2 linked regions of the Homo sapiens genome follow. The protein of the gene in region 1 interacts with the protein of each later gene in a biochemical or structural test. Each region holds a gene or a part of one and is shown in the gene's direction. Other genes may lie near its edges.

The links.
Region 2: the proteins of SUMO2 (region 1) and RNF4 form a complex in vitro, tested with the Homo sapiens proteins (15 studies listed by BioGRID, with this or other methods).

Annotation. Positions count from the first base shown.
Region 1 is NC_000017.11:75,165,958-75,172,975, reverse strand, and holds part of SUMO2 (small ubiquitin-related modifier 2 isoform a precursor), read left to right. Parts: intron 1-4,574; coding exon 4,575-4,637; 3' UTR 4,638-7,018. UniProt on the Homo sapiens protein: Ubiquitin-like protein that can be covalently attached to proteins as a monomer or as a lysine-linked polymer.
Region 2 is NC_000004.12:2,464,107-2,472,112, forward strand, and holds the start of RNF4 (E3 ubiquitin-protein ligase RNF4), read left to right. Parts: upstream 1-4,999; 5' UTR 5,000-5,152; intron 5,153-5,346; exon of another isoform or gene 5,347-5,936; intron 5,937-6,880; exon of another isoform or gene 6,881-7,003; intron 7,004-8,006. UniProt on the Homo sapiens protein: E3 ubiquitin-protein ligase which binds polysumoylated chains covalently attached to proteins and mediates 'Lys-6'-, 'Lys-11'-, 'Lys-48'- and 'Lys-63'-linked polyubiquitination of those substrates and their subsequent targeting to the proteasome for degradation.

The DNA of each region.
Region 1 (7,018 bases):
AGAAGAATATTTTGAAGACATTTCAACTGGTGACAGTCTCTCAAAAGGAATTACGGGCCAGGTGCACTTGTTCACACCTGTCATCCTAGCACTTCAGGAGGCTGAGGCAGGCAGATTGCTTGAGGTCAGGAGTTTGAGACCAGCCTGGACAATATGGTGAAACCCCGTGTCTGCCAAAAAATACAAAAATTAGCCAGGCATCGCCGGGCGCAGTGGCTCATGCCTGTGATCCCAGCACTTTGGGAGGCCGAGGTGGGCGGATCACCTGAGGTTGGGAGTTTGAGACCACTCCGACCAACATGGAGAAACCCCGTCTCTACTAAAAATACAAAATTAGCTGGGTGTGGTGGCCTGTAATCCCAGCTGCTCGGGAGGCTGAGGCAGGAGAATCGCTTGAACCCAGGAGGCAGAGGTTGCAGTGAGCCGGAGATCACGCCATTGCACTCGAGCATGGGTAACGAGCGAAACTCAAAAAAAAAAAAAAAAAATTTAGCCAGGCATGATGGTGCACGCCTGTAGTCCCAGCTACTCAGGAGGCTGAGGCAGGAGAATCACCTGAACCCGAGAGGCGGAGATTAAAGTCAGCAGAGATAGTGCCACTGCACTCCAGCCTGGGTAACAGCCCCTGTCTCAAAAAAAAAAAAAAAAAAGTCTGGGTACAGTAGCTCACGACTGTAATCCTAGCACTTTGGGAGGCCAAGGCAAGTTGATCACCTGAGGTCAGCAGTTCAAGACCAGCCTGGCCAACATGGCGAAACTACCCCGTCTCTACTAAAAATACAAAAATTAGCCGGGCATGGTGGTGCTCACCTGTAATCCCATCCCAGCTACTCGGGAGATTGAGCCAGGAGAATCTGGGCGGGGGAAAGGTGTCAGACAGTCGAGGTTGCAGTGAGCGCGGAGGTCATGCCACTTCACTCTAGCTTGGGTGAAAGAGTGAAACCCTGTCAAAAAAAAAAAAAAAGGCGCAATTATGGTATGTAGCCACAAGGAGGAGCTAAATTCTATTGATAAATGAGGCTGGTACAGGAACCTCATTTTTTAAAGGCATTTACAGTTTCACTGTAAAACTTCACATTTGGATAATTTTGTTTTAGTAGATAGATGACAGGCTTGTTTGGTTTTAAAAGAAATAGTAAAAAGTATCTATTGTGCTGTACTCTCAGTTATTAGAATGTATTTCCTGTCTTTAAGCCCTCCTTACCCACCACTAAAACGGGATTATCTGCTATAGTAGTTACAAATATTAAACAAGGAGTTATTTGTTTGGATCCGTGACCTTGAGGCATTTTAAAATCTTCAGGTTGAATTTGCAATTCATTTTACTTCATTTTGAAGAATTTGGAATTGATTCGTTTTAGAATTATTCTCCCAATATTTGTTAGATAGCAGGATTGTGATAAATTAAAACATCTTAGCAGGCCTCCTGCCTCCCCAGCTTTTTTTTATTTTTTTATTTTTCGAGACGGAGTTTTGCCCTGTCTCCCAGACTGGAGTGCAGTGGCGTGATCTCAGCTCACTGCAACCTCTGCTTCCTGGGTTCAAGCGATTCTCCTGCCTCAGCTTCCCGAGTAGCTGGGATTACAGGCGCCCACCATGATGCCTGGCTAATTTTGTTTTTATTTTATTTGTTTATGTTGTTTTTATTTTATTTTCTGTATTGACGGAGTCAGTACAAAATTAGCTGGGCATGATGGCGCATGCCTGTAATCCCAGCTACTTGGGAGGCTGAGGCAGGAGAATTGCTTGACCCGGGAGGCAGAGGTTGCAGTGAGCCAAGATTGCGCCATTGCACTCCACCCTGGGCAACAACAGCGAAACTCCATCGCAAGAAAAAATAGAAAAACACAAATGTAGTCATACAATAAGCTGCTTTGCTCCTTGGGGTGTACTTTTTTTTTTTTTTAACTGCCCCTTACAGAGCATGGCTAACTTATATAGTCAGTGCACCGAGTTGGCTGCTGCTTAGTTTTAAAATTGTGTTTTTAGCCTAACACTGTATCTACTGTATCTTAAAGATATTTTCATTTCTGTACATGAAAATCTTATTTTTTAACGGCTATATGGTATTTAATATCTGAGCATACTATGTTTTATTAATTTGGGTTTTTTTTTTTTTTTTTTGAGACCTGGAGTCTCGCACTGTCACCCAGGCTGGAGTGCAGTGGCGTGATCTCAGCTCACTATAACCTCCACCTCCCAGGTTCAAGTGATTCTCCTGCCTCAGCCTCCTGAGTGGCTGGGATTACAGGCACCTGCCACCATGCCCAGCTAATTTTTTGTATTTTTAGTAGAGACGGGGTTTCACTATGTTGGCCAGGCTGGTCTCGAATGACTGACCTTGTGAGCCACCACGCCTGCCGTGGGTTTTTTGTTTTGGTGTTTTTTGTTTTTGTTTTTGTTTTTTGAGACAGAGTCTTGCTCTGTTGCCAGGCTGGAGTGCAGTGGGGCAATCACAGCTCACTGTAACCTCCACTTCACGGGTTCAAGTGATTCTCCTGCCTCAGCCTCCCGAGTAGCTGGGACTACAGGCGTGCGCAACCACACCCAGCTAATTTTTGTATTTTTGGTAGAAACAGGGTTTCACCATGTTGGCCAGGATGGGTTTGACCTGTTGACCTGGTGATCCGCCCACCTTGGCCTCCCAAAGTGTTGGGATTATAGGCGTGAGCCCCGGCGCCCAGCCTAATTTGGGTTTTTATTGAGATTTGTTTTCAGTCTTTGCTAAGCAGTGCAGCGAGATTCTTTAAACATATCACCCTTCTGTGGGCCCTCGACACAGACATATTCAGCTTTCATTTATTTAATTTTTTTGAGACAGTTTCTTGTCACATGCAATGGCATGATCTTGGCTCACTGCAACCTCCACCTCCTGGGTTCAAGTGATTCTCCTGCCTCAGCCTCCCAAGTAGCTGGGATTACAGGCGTGCAGGCGTGCGCCACCACGCCCAGCTAATTTTTTTGTTTTGTTTTTTGTATTTTTAGTAGAGACTGGGTTTCACCATTTTGGCCAGGCTGGTCTTGAACTCCCGACCTCAGGTGATCTGCCTGCCTCGGCCTCCCAAAGTGTTGAGATTACAGGTGTGAGCTGCCACACCCGCCCCCCCCCACCTTTTTTTTTTTTTTTGAGACCAAGTCTCACTCTGTCACCGGTGTTGGAGTCCAGTGGCACAATCTTGGCTCACCACAACCTCTGCTTCCTGGGTTCAAGCGATTCTCCTGCCTCAGCCTCCCGAATAGCTGGGATTACGGGCACATGCCACCATGCCCGGCTAATTTAAAAAATATTTTTAGGCCGGGTGCAGTGGTTCACGCCTATAATCCCAGCATTTTGGGAGGCCGAGGAGGGTGGATCATGAGGTCAGGAGATCTAGACTGTCCTGGCTAACACGGTGAAACCCCGTCTCTACTAAAAATACAAAAAATTAGCCAGGCGTTGTGGCGGGCACCTGTAGTCCCAGCTACTCGGGAGGCTGAGGCAGGAGAATGGCGTGAACCCAGGAGGCGGAGCTTGCAGTGAGCTGAGATCCTGCCACTGGACTCCAGCCTGGGCGACACAGGGAGACTCCGTCTCAAAAAAAAAAAAAAAATTTTTTTTTAATAGGGATGGGGTGTCACCAGGTTGGCCAGGCTGGTCTTGAACTCCTGACCTCAGGTGACCCGCCCACTTCAGCCTCCCAAAGTGTTGAGATTACAGGAGTGAGCCATTGTGCGTGGCCCTAGCCTTTTTTTCTCTTTTTTTGATACAGGATCTTTTGCTTTGTCACTCAGGCTGGAGTGAGCTGGTGTGGTCTCAGTTCACTGCAGCCTTGATCTTATGGGCTCAATTGATCCTCCCACCTCGGCTTCCTGAGTAGCTGGGAGTATGGACATGTGTCACCATGGCTGGCTAATTTTTTTTTTTTTTCCTTTTTTTTTTTGTAGAGATGTTGTCTCCCTATGTTGCCCAGGTGGTCTCGGTCTCTTGGGCTCAAGCAATCCTCCAATGTTGGCCTCCAGTAGTACTGGGATTACAGGCATGAGCCACCGCACCTGGCTAATATTCTGCTTTTTACTCAAAAACTAAGTTTTGGCTGGGCGCAGTGGCTCACACCTGTAATCCCAGCACTTTGGGAGGCCGAGGCAGGCAGATCACTTGAGCTCAGGAGTTTGAGACCAGCCTGGCCAACATGACGAAACCCCATCTCTACTAAAAATACAAAAAAATTAGCTGGGCATGGTGGCGGATGCCTGTAATCTCAGCTACTTGGGAGACTGAGGCAGGAGAATTGCTTGAACCTGAGGGGTGGACGTTGCAGTGAGCTGAGATCACGCCACTGCAGTCCAGCCTGGGTGACAGAAATCCTGTCTCAAAAAAAAAACAAAAAAGTTTTATCTAATAGTCATAAAAAAGGAAGCCAAGTGAAAAATTACTTAAACCAAGTGTGTTGATACATTAAGCTATGAGACATCTAAAATAATGAAACTTGGAACTTAGTGGAACATGTACATGTTTTCAGCATACTTAAACCCAAAAATCATTAATTTTCAGAACTTAATCAGTGCTTTTACATTTGTTTTTTCTTTTATGCTAGTTGGAAATGGAGGATGAAGATACAATTGATGTGTTCCAACAGCAGACGGGAGGTGTCTACTGAAAAGGGAACCTGCTTCTTTACTCCAGAACTCTGTTCTTTAAAGACCAAGATTACATTCTCAATTAGAAAACTGCAATTTGGTTCCACCACATCCTGACTACTACCGTATAGTTTTCTCTATTCTTTCATTTCCCCCTTCCCCATTCCTTTATTGTACATAAAGTAACTGGTATATGTGCACAAGCATATTGCATTTTTTTTTTTTTTAACTAAACAGCCAATGGTATGTTTTGATTGACATCAAGTGGAGACGGGATGGGGAAAAATACTGATTCTGTGAAAATACCCCCTTTCTCCATTAGTGGCATGCTCATTCAGCTCTTATCTTTATATTCCAGTAAGTTATTTTGCTCTCACTGTTTTAACAAAAAAAAAAAACAACAACATAAAAATCCTTGCATACCTTGTTCAATTGGAGAATTTTAATGTTTTTCATTTATCATTGTAAAACCAAGGACAATTTTATAACTTTTTTGTACGTAGCTGTTACATGTAGGGCAATCTGTCTTTAAGTAGGGATAAATTACTCTAAAACAAAAAAGAATCCTAGATAGTTTTCCCTTCAAGTCAAGCGTCTTGTTGTTTAAATAAACTTCTTGTTTAAAATGAGCTGTTTTCTTTATTCTGAGAAATATTAAATAGAAAATTGAGGCTTAGAAAAAACATAAATAGGCCTGCTTAGAAGTAACATTTCAAGAAGGAAATAAAGCTACTTGGTGTTTCTGACAGACTGATACTGATGCCAAACAAAGAATAACAGTTTTATAAATATCACCTTGTTCCAAAAGTTTCTCTAGGTCCCATGTTAATATGCAAGTATACTAGCAGAAAAATTGGGCCATAGTATCGTGGATTTCCAGGTATTTTCTGTATATTAAGTGAGGCACGGAGCATAGGGTATAGGGTAGCACATGTGGCAAGGAAAAAGTTCTGATTTTGCCTTTGTTGCTGATAAAACACTGAACCATTCTAGCCTGCACTTATCATAAGTAAATACTCCCTAACCTAAAATAAAGTTTTCGTTCCTTATTCAAGGATTTTTTTTTTGAGACGGAGTTTTCCTCTTGTTGCCCAGGCTGGAGTGTAGTGGTGCAATTTCAGCTCACTGCAACCTCAGCCTCCTGAGTAGCTGGGGGGTCATAGGTGCATGCCACCACGCCCAGCTAATTTTTTTTCTATTTTTAGTCGAGACAGGGTTTTATCACGTATGCCAGGCTGGTCTCGAACTCCTGACCTTAGGTGATCCACCCGCCTCAGCCTCCCAAAGTGCAGGGATTACGGCATGAGCCACCACGCCTGGCCTATTCAAGAATATTGAGGGACAGAAAATATCTATATATATCCATCCTCAGAACCTTAAATATACAGGTCACTACAGTCTTTATTATTTTAATTTTTGTTTCTTAGGGTTTCTTTTGGTGGTGGTTTTTTGAGATGGAGCATCATTCCGTCTCCCAGGCTGTAGTGCAGTGGCACAATCTTGGCTCACTGCAAGCTCCGCCTCCCGGGTTCACGCCATTCTCCTGCCTCAGCCTCCCGTCTTAGGTCTTTTTGAAAGAGGTTATGCCTCTGTTGCCTAGTCTGGAGTGGTGCAATGGTGTGATCTTGGCTCACTGCAACCTCCACCTCCAGGTCTTAAGAGATCCTCCCTGCTCAGCCTCGTGAGTAGCTAGAACCGCAGGTGCATGCCACCACAGCTAATTCTTGTATTTTTTATAGAGAGTGTTTCGCCATATTGTCCAGGCCGGGCTCAAACCCCTGATCTTAAGTGATCTATCTGCCTTAGCCTCCCAATGTGCTGGGTTTACAGGCGTGAGCCACTATGCCCAGCCCCTTTTTAATTTTTTAAAAATGTTTATTTTTGAGATGGAGTTTCGCTCTTGTTGCCCCAACTGGAGACCAATGACATGATCTCAGCTCACTGCAACCTCCGCCTCCCGGGTTCAACTGATTCTCCTCCCTCAGCCTCCGGAAAAGCTGGGATTACAAGCATCTACCATCATACCTGGCTAATTCTGTATTTTTAGTAGAGAAGGGGTTTCTCTATGTTGGTCAGGCTGGTCTCCACCTCCCGACCTCAGGTGATCTGCCTGCCTTGGCCTCCCAAAGTGCTGAGATTACAGGCTTGAGCCACTGTGCCCGGCCAAATTTTTATTATTTTTAAATTAGAGGTGGGGTCTCACCATGTTGACCAGTTTGGTCTCGAACTTCTGGCCTCAGTCCCTTGTCTTGGCCTCCCAAAGTGTTGGGGTTTCAGGTGTTAGACCCCATGCCCAACCACTACAGTTTTTGTTTTTGTTTTTGTTTTTTTTTCAGACGGAGTCTTGCTCTGTCGCCCAGGCTGGAGTGCAGTGGCGCAATCTTGGCTCACGGCAAGCTCC
Region 2 (8,006 bases), on another chromosome or scaffold:
AGGATTTTACCACCCAGGTAGGTAAGGAGAAGAATTTCCACATCTCTGTAGAATTGCAGCTGGGAGCAGATTAAATTTCATTTAAAGAAATAAACATTGGCCAGGCAAGGGGGCTCAAACCTGTAATCCCAGCACTTTGGGAGGCTGAGGCAGGTGGATCACCTGAGGTCAGGAGTTTAAGACCAGCCTGGCCAACATGGTGAAACCCCGTCGCTACTAAAAATACAAAAATTAGCTGGGCGTAGTGGCTGGCGCCTGTAATCCCAGTTACTCGGGAAGCTGAGGCAAGAGAATGGAGTCGCTTGAACCCAGGAGACGGAGGTTGCAGTGAGCTGAGATCGCACCACTCCAGCCTGGTGACAAGAGTCAAACTCCATCTCAAAAAAAAAGAAATAAACATTGCTCATATCCCGTGTTGTGTGATCCAAACCCATTTAATTTGATATTGATGGAATACATTGATGATGCCTGGCCTAGAAAGCCCCTCTGAGCTCTGGGGGTTTCAAAGGGGGATTTATTAGCTCTCATAATGCCAATCCAAAGGCAGCAGACTTCAGGATGTACCCGATCCAGGAGCTCAGTCTCCACTCTGGTAGCAGTTCCAGCCTGAGGAACAAAGAACAGTTGCCCCAGTCTCATTGGCCTGAATTGAACATACTTGGGCTGAGCCAGTTCCTGCAGTGAGGGAAGGTCTGCATGGGTGCCTGAAGCAAGCACTGTGGCAAGGCAGGGGAATTACCCTTCACCTAGAAGGTTGGCCTCTGGAGCAGAGGGGAGATGTGGCAGCTAACAAATTGAGGGTACTATTGGCAACACTGTTGGTTGGCAGGTAACAAGGTCTTCCCCTGCCCCCTCCTGGACTGAGCAGCCGCTTAGAGCTAGCTTGAGAGCACGTGGGGCCTCTCCTCATACAAACCTAGGTGGGAGCAGGCCTCGGACCATTCCCTAAAGTTGTGGCCTGGGAGTAGGCATTGTGTGATAGAGTGATGGCAAAATGTCTGTGTATCCCTGCCCCTTGCCTTGTGACTTTACACCTCCCATCGAGAGGTGGAGTCTATTCCCCCAGCCCTTGCATCTGGTCTGGCCTAGTGACTTTCTTTGGCTAATAGGGTGCAACAGAAGTGACCACGTGCCAGTTCTGAGTCTGGGCCTCAGGTGGCCTTGGAGCTCCCACTTGTTCTCTTGGAACCTTCGCCAGGCCCCATGTGAGCATGACTAGGGTGGCCTGCTGGGATCAGACACCATGTGGAGGACACCATCTCAGAGGCCATCCTAGACTAGCAGAGCACAAAATGAGAGCGCAGCCGGACAAGAACCTCCCCCAACCCTGCTGTCTTATAGATTCATGAGCAACAATAAATGTCTGTCATTCAAAGTATCAAGCTTTGGGGTGGTTTGTTCCAGAGCAACAGCTAAGGGGCACACCCTTAAGAGCCCAGGGCCTTCACACTGGGGGCCCCTGCCTCCCCTCCCTGCACAGGCAGCTAAGGGGCACACCCTTAAGAGCCCAGGGCCTTCACACTGGGGGCCCCTGCCTCCCCTCCCTGCACAGGCAGCTAAGGGGCACACCCTTAAGAGCCCAGGGCCTTCACACTAGGGGCCCCTGCCTTCCCTCCCTGCATAGGCTCTTTACAGAGAATCAAGCTACTCCCCCAAAGGGGGCCAGCCAGAGTGAGATATGGCCCAGCTAGTGCTGACAATCCCTCTCTGAACCTTTCCTGGCTGGACTGCCTGGGGAGTGGACATTTTGCCTGAGTACAGGCTAGTCAGAAGATCCTTGTTGATAGCATCTGAGACCCACTTGGGCAGGGGCTTTCTTTGGAAATAGTGAAGAAACAGATTTAGTAGCTGGTGTGAGGCCCAGGAACCTGCATTCAGCTGGTTTCGACTTGTGGGACTATGGGAGCACCAAGGTGCCGGTCTTTTCTCTAAGCTGCAGGCGTTCAGGGCCCAAGGGAAGCGCTATTTGTGAAGGAACAAGTTCAGTGCAAGTGAGGCTTGGAGAAGACTTGAAAGCAGCTTTTGTTTTTGTTTTTGAGGCAGGGTCTCGCTTTGTCACCCAGGCTGGAGTGCAGTGACGTGATGATAGCTCATACAGCCTTAAACTCCCGGGCTCAAGTGATCCTCTTGCCTCATCCTCCCTACTAGCTGGGACTGCATGCACTTACCACCATACCCAGCTAATTTTTTATTTTTAGTAGAGATGAGGTCTCACTATGTTGCCCTGGCTGAAGGCAGTCTTTGAGCATGAAACTGGTATTTATAGAGACTTTTTCAACATCACATCTTCAATATATTACAGTTACAAACAGAAAACCCTAACTTTTCCTTAGGCTGTAAAATACAAATTACTAATATTACTTTTTCTAAATCTGATTTTTTTTTTTTGAGAGAGAGAGGGTCTCATTCTGTCAATCAAGCTGACGTGCAATCACAGCTTACTGCAGCCATGACCTCCTGGGCTCAAGTAATCCTGCTGCCTCAGCCTCCTGAGTAGCTGGGACCACAGGGACATGCCACCACACCCGGCTAATTATTATTTGTGTGTGTGTGTGTGGAGAGGGGGTTTTACCACGTTACCCAGGCTCATCTATAAACTCCTCAGCTCAAGCAATCCTCCCACCTCAGCCTCCGAAAGTGTTAAGATTACAGGTGAGAGCCACCATGCCCGCCCTAAATCTGATCATTTTTAACCACCATTTTGATTAATCATGTACGGCCCCATTTATGAACTGAAATTCTCTTAAACATTTTCAACTGCATTTATACACGTAGAATCTAATTTTATTTTTTAGCATTTCAGTTGTCTGCCTTATCAAGTATTAATATTTAAATAATTCTCATAGATATATTAAATGTCTTCATTTCTTTTAAACTTTTAAGTTCTCTTTGCTCCAATTATAATCACAAACTTCGGAAAATGTTATACCTTTCAACTTACAGTCGCTATCAAAAATCAAATACTTAGGGCAGGGTGTGATGGCTCATGCCTGTAATCTCAACACTTTGGGAGGTCGAGGTGAGCAGATAACTTGAGCCCGGGGCTTCAAGACAAGACTGGGCAACATGGCGAAAGCCAGTGTCTACAAAAAAAAAATACAAAAAAATTAGCCAGGCATGGTGGCACACACCTGTGGTCCCAGCTACTCAGGAGGCCAAGGTGGGTTGATCATCTAAACCTGGGGAGGTCGAGGCTGCAGTGAGTGAGTCATGATTGTGCCACTGCACTCCAGCCTGGCTGACAGAGTGACACCTCGTCTCAAAAAAAAAAAAAAAAAAAAAGACTGGGTGCGGTGGCCCACGCCTGTAATCCCAGCACTTTGGGAGGCCGAGGCGGGTGGATCACGAGGTCAGGAGATCAAGACCATCCTGGCTAACACGGTGAAACCCCGTCTCTACTAAAAAATACAAAAAAAAAAAAATTAGCCAGGCGTGGTGGCGGGCGCCTGTAGTCCCAGCTACTTGGGAGGCTGAGGCAGGAGAATGGCGTGAACCCGGGATGCGGAGCTTGCAGTGAGCCGAGATCGCGCCACTGCACTCCAGCCTGGGCGACAGAGCGAGACTCCGTCTCAAAACAAACAAACAAACAAACAAAAAACACAAATACTTAGATATTTTACATGAGAATTACATTTATCTATCAGATACTCTACCATGCCAGATTTCCTTACAATTACGAAAAATAGCAAACACATATTGTTTGTAAATGCAACACAAAAACGTTAATGCTCTGGTTTCTATCTGCCTTGTCATTCCGTTATTTGACTCCATTTTCGAGGTTAGAAACTCACTGTAAGGTGGCCGGGCGAGGTGGCTCACACCAGTAATCCCAGCACTTTTGGAGGCCAAGGAGGGTGGATCACCTGAGGTCAGGAGCTCGAGACCAGCCTGGCCAACATGATGGAACTCCATCTCTACTAAAAATACAAAGAAAATTAGCCGGGCGTGGTGGCAGGCGCCTGTAATCCCAGCTATTCGGGAGGCTGAGGCAGGAGAATCACGTGAACCCAGGAGGTTAGAGCTTGCAGTGAGCCGAGATCGCGCCACTAAAACAAACAAACTCACTGTAAGGAAACAATGTAACCCAAGGCATTTGGGGTGACCTTCACGTTGCCTGAGGGTGCCGAGGGACCAGAGATGCTGGCCATGGACTAAGGTCTGGGTATTCTCAGGCAGCAGGGACAAGGTGGGCTTTTTTCCTGGTTGCTAAACCCACGTCAAAGTCGAGCTCAGGGACTGGAGCTCAAGAAACCCACCGCCCATTCTCCAGTCCGACCGGGGACCTGCATGCACCTCTGCCGTGCTGCCCTGAGTCCTCCAATCCTCCACACTCTTCCTCTGTTATGTACACGTCTCCACCCAGGCCTGCAAAAGTCCCAGCTTCCTCGCAGGGGCAGGGACCCGCACGCCGGCCCAGGGCTTGGCACGCGGGGATGCTGAAACAGGGCCAGGCCTGGTTTCCAGCCGATCGTCAGAGTCCCAAGGCCCAGCAACCTTCCTCACAAAGGCCTCGTTAAGAGGCGAGGAAACAAGAGCCGGGAGAGGGGCGCGGAACGGCGGGCGGGACGAACGACCAGCTCCGCGCCTCCGGCCAGCTGCGTCGAGCCAGGGGCACCGCGGCTGTTGTGCGGCTGGAAATCTAGGAATGGGAAGGTTCGGGGCCTGCTCGGCTCCGGAGGCAGCTGGCGGGTCGTCCCTGGCGGCGTTGGAGCGGTCAGTGGCAGCCGGGCACGGGCGACCGGGTCGCCCGGGTCGCCCTCAGACCGTGACTCCCGAAAAACCTTGCGGGCGGGGCGCGCCCGCGCCGTCTCTTGCCGGAAGGTGCGAGTTAGTGCGCTCGATTGTGGGCGGGGGCGGAAAGAGGCGCGTTTTAAAGTGGTAACAGATGGTTTTCTTATCCAATAGGATTAAAAAATTTGTCCTTACCCGGCCGACCGCGGAAGTAGAGTAGGCGGGCGGCCAATGGGGACATGATGGGGGGCGGAGCCGAGGCCTCCGAAGCGGAAGTGGGTTGCTGTTGAGGCGGCGGCATCTTTCTCGAGGAGCTCTCCTGGGCGGCTGAAGAAGGAGCTTCTTCTCCGGAGTGCGCCGGCGGTGGCGCCTGCGGACCTAACTAGCTCCAGGTTAGGCCGAGCTTTGCGGGAAAGCAGCGGTAAGTCAGGGCCTTGCAGATGCGAGGTTTAGGCAGCTTCGCGGCCTACAGAGGCCTCGGCCCGCGCCTCTTGGGGGAGCCGCGCTGCGCGGCTTGACCCAGCCGAGGCTTTGCAGCCCGGGACCTCGAGCCAGCTCTGGTCGCTCGCACTGCCGTCCGCGCGGGCGCACCGAGCCCGGCTTGGCGCGGGCAACAGAAGTTAGGAGGTCTGCGTCTGGGTCTCGGCTCACCCTGGGGGGCCGCGGCCATGGGGCTTAGTTCCTAGCCTAGGAAGGGAAACTGAGACTCTGGGAGGGGCAGGAACGCCCCCAAGGTCACTTGGAAAGTCGGGCAGGATGTGCTGTTAGGGGGAAGACCCGGGCAGGGTTTTTGTTCCCCGCTGACGACGCCTCCTTTGTGTGTTCGCGCCGCCGCCCCGCCATCGTGGGGCCTGCGAGTTTGCCGGGGTGCGTGGGCCGCGTGGCGGGGCCTTTTGTAGGTCGGGAGGATCTGAGTACGGGTGCGGGCCTGACCGTGGGGGCGCCGAGGTCGCAGTCTAAAACTTAGTAGGGCCTCGATTTCCGGGCGCGCTTCCGGGCCCCGGCTGGTGGTTGGTGGAACGTGCGACTGTGAGGCTTGCGGCCCAGCCCTGCACCGCTCGGGCCCTTCACCGCTCTGGCGCGCCTATAGACAGGTGTATGAAGATTCTCACGACCCGAAACAGAGTTGCTAGTAAACACCGCTTTTCCGCCTTTGATCCATCGAGGGAAGAGGGAAAAGGATAGAGCTTGGGCAAGCCGTTTTGGTAGGGATTTCAGCTTTTGTCTTTCACTTGTCAGTTCCCATAGACGTTCACAAACTTAATAATCTTCGTTCTGTTTCTGCACCAAGTTCTTGAGCCAGACGTAGGGTCTCAGCTCTGGAGCCTGGCTTAGACTGTCCAACTGACTGGGGAGACTGAGGTCCAGAAAAGTGAAGTGGTCTGCCCAAGGTCACATAGCCAGCTATTTGGCAGCAGATGAGGTTAAGTCCTACCTGCAAGATTTGGGTTTTGAATTCATTGACCAGGAGTTTTGGGACCACTGTCAATAAAAGAGACATTGAAGGGAATCTTTTGTTACTTTCTTGGTGATTTGCTTTTTAATGGACAAGGACATATTGGGTTCAGTTTTATCTGTGAGTTTGAGGTGAAATAGAGGCATTCGAGTAGCAAGATATATTGCTGGCTTTTGTATTGCCTGAATTTGAGCTTCCAAAAATCTTACTTTAACACATCGTTTATTGATCTTTTCTTGAATTACTACCTTTGTAAGGACCTTTTGTAAACATTGTTTTTCTAATCTTCATGAAATCTTAATGCCATACGTAAACTATTTCTTTTTATATAATGTATGCACATCTGTGCTTTGTACATAAAATGAGTAAGATTTTTCACTCTCCTCAAGATCAAAGTAGCGTATTTTTGAGGTCTCCTGTATGCCAACCTTTCTGCTTGGAATACAGCAGTAAACAGTCGTGGTCCTCCTGTAGCTGGGTGAGGATGGAGGGAATAAGAGATAACTCATTTTATTGTGTTTTGCAAATACTGCCTTTTTTTTTTTGCAAGGTGAAGGTTTATAGCAAGGATTCATCGAGCAAGTCTGTAAATGCCAGCCATTTTTCCAACAGCATGTGCTCACTTTGTGTCTCTTGTGTCACGTTTGGGTAATTCACAATATTTCACACTTTTTTTTTTTTTTTTTTTTTGAGGTGGAATCTCACTCTGTCACCCAGGATGCAGTGCACTGGCGTGTTCTCGGTCTCACTGTAACCTCTGCCATCTGGGCTCAAGTGATTCTCCTGCCTCAGCCTCCGGAGTAGCTGGGATTACAGGCATGTACTACCACACCCAGTTAATTTTTGTATTTTTAGTGGAGACGGGGTTTCACCATATTGGCCAGGCTGGTCTCGAACGCCTGACCTCAAGTGATCCGCCTGCCTCGGCCTCCCAAAGTGCTGGGATTACAGGCATGAGCCACCATGCCCAGCCCCAAACCTTTTCATTGTTACATCTGTTATAGTGACCTGTGATCAATGTTTTGGGTTACCATGAATAGCACTCATATAAGACAGTGAACTTAATTGGTAAAAGTTGGGTGTGTACTAACAGCTCCACTGACTGGCAGTTCCCAGTCTCTCTCCTCAGGCCTCTCAATTCCTTGAGACACAATATTGAAATTAGGCCAGTCAGTGACCCTACAGTGTCCAGGCAAAAGGAGCAGTCAGTTGAATCTCTCTTACTTTAAGTGAAGTTAAGAAATGTTTATCCTTAGTGAGAAAGGCGTATCAAAAGTTGAGATAGGCCAAAAGCTAGGCCTCTTGTGCTGAATGACAGTTAGCCAAGTTGTGAATGCAGAGGAAGAGTTCTTGAAATTAAAATGCTACTCCAATGAATACATGAATGATAAGCCAAACAGCCTTATTGCTGATAGGGAGAAAGTTTTAGTGGTCTGGATAGAAGATCAAACCATCCATGACATTCCCTTAAGCGAAAGCCTAATCCGGAGCAAGGTACTAACTCTCTTCAATTCTGTGAAGAGTGAGGAAGCTGCAGAAGAAAAGTTTGAAACTGGCAGAGGTTAGTTCATGAGGTTTAAGGGAAGAAGCCACCTCTGTAATGTAAAAGTGTAAGGTGAGGCAGTAAGTGTTGATGAAGAAGCTGCAGCAAGTTATGCAGAACATATAGCTAAAATAATTGATGAAGGTGGCCACACTAAACAACAGACTTTCAATGTAAATGAAACAGCCTTATATGGAAAAAAAAATACTATCTAGGACTTTCATAGCTAGAGAAAGGTCAATGCCTGGCTTCAAAGGACAGTCTGATTCTCTTGTT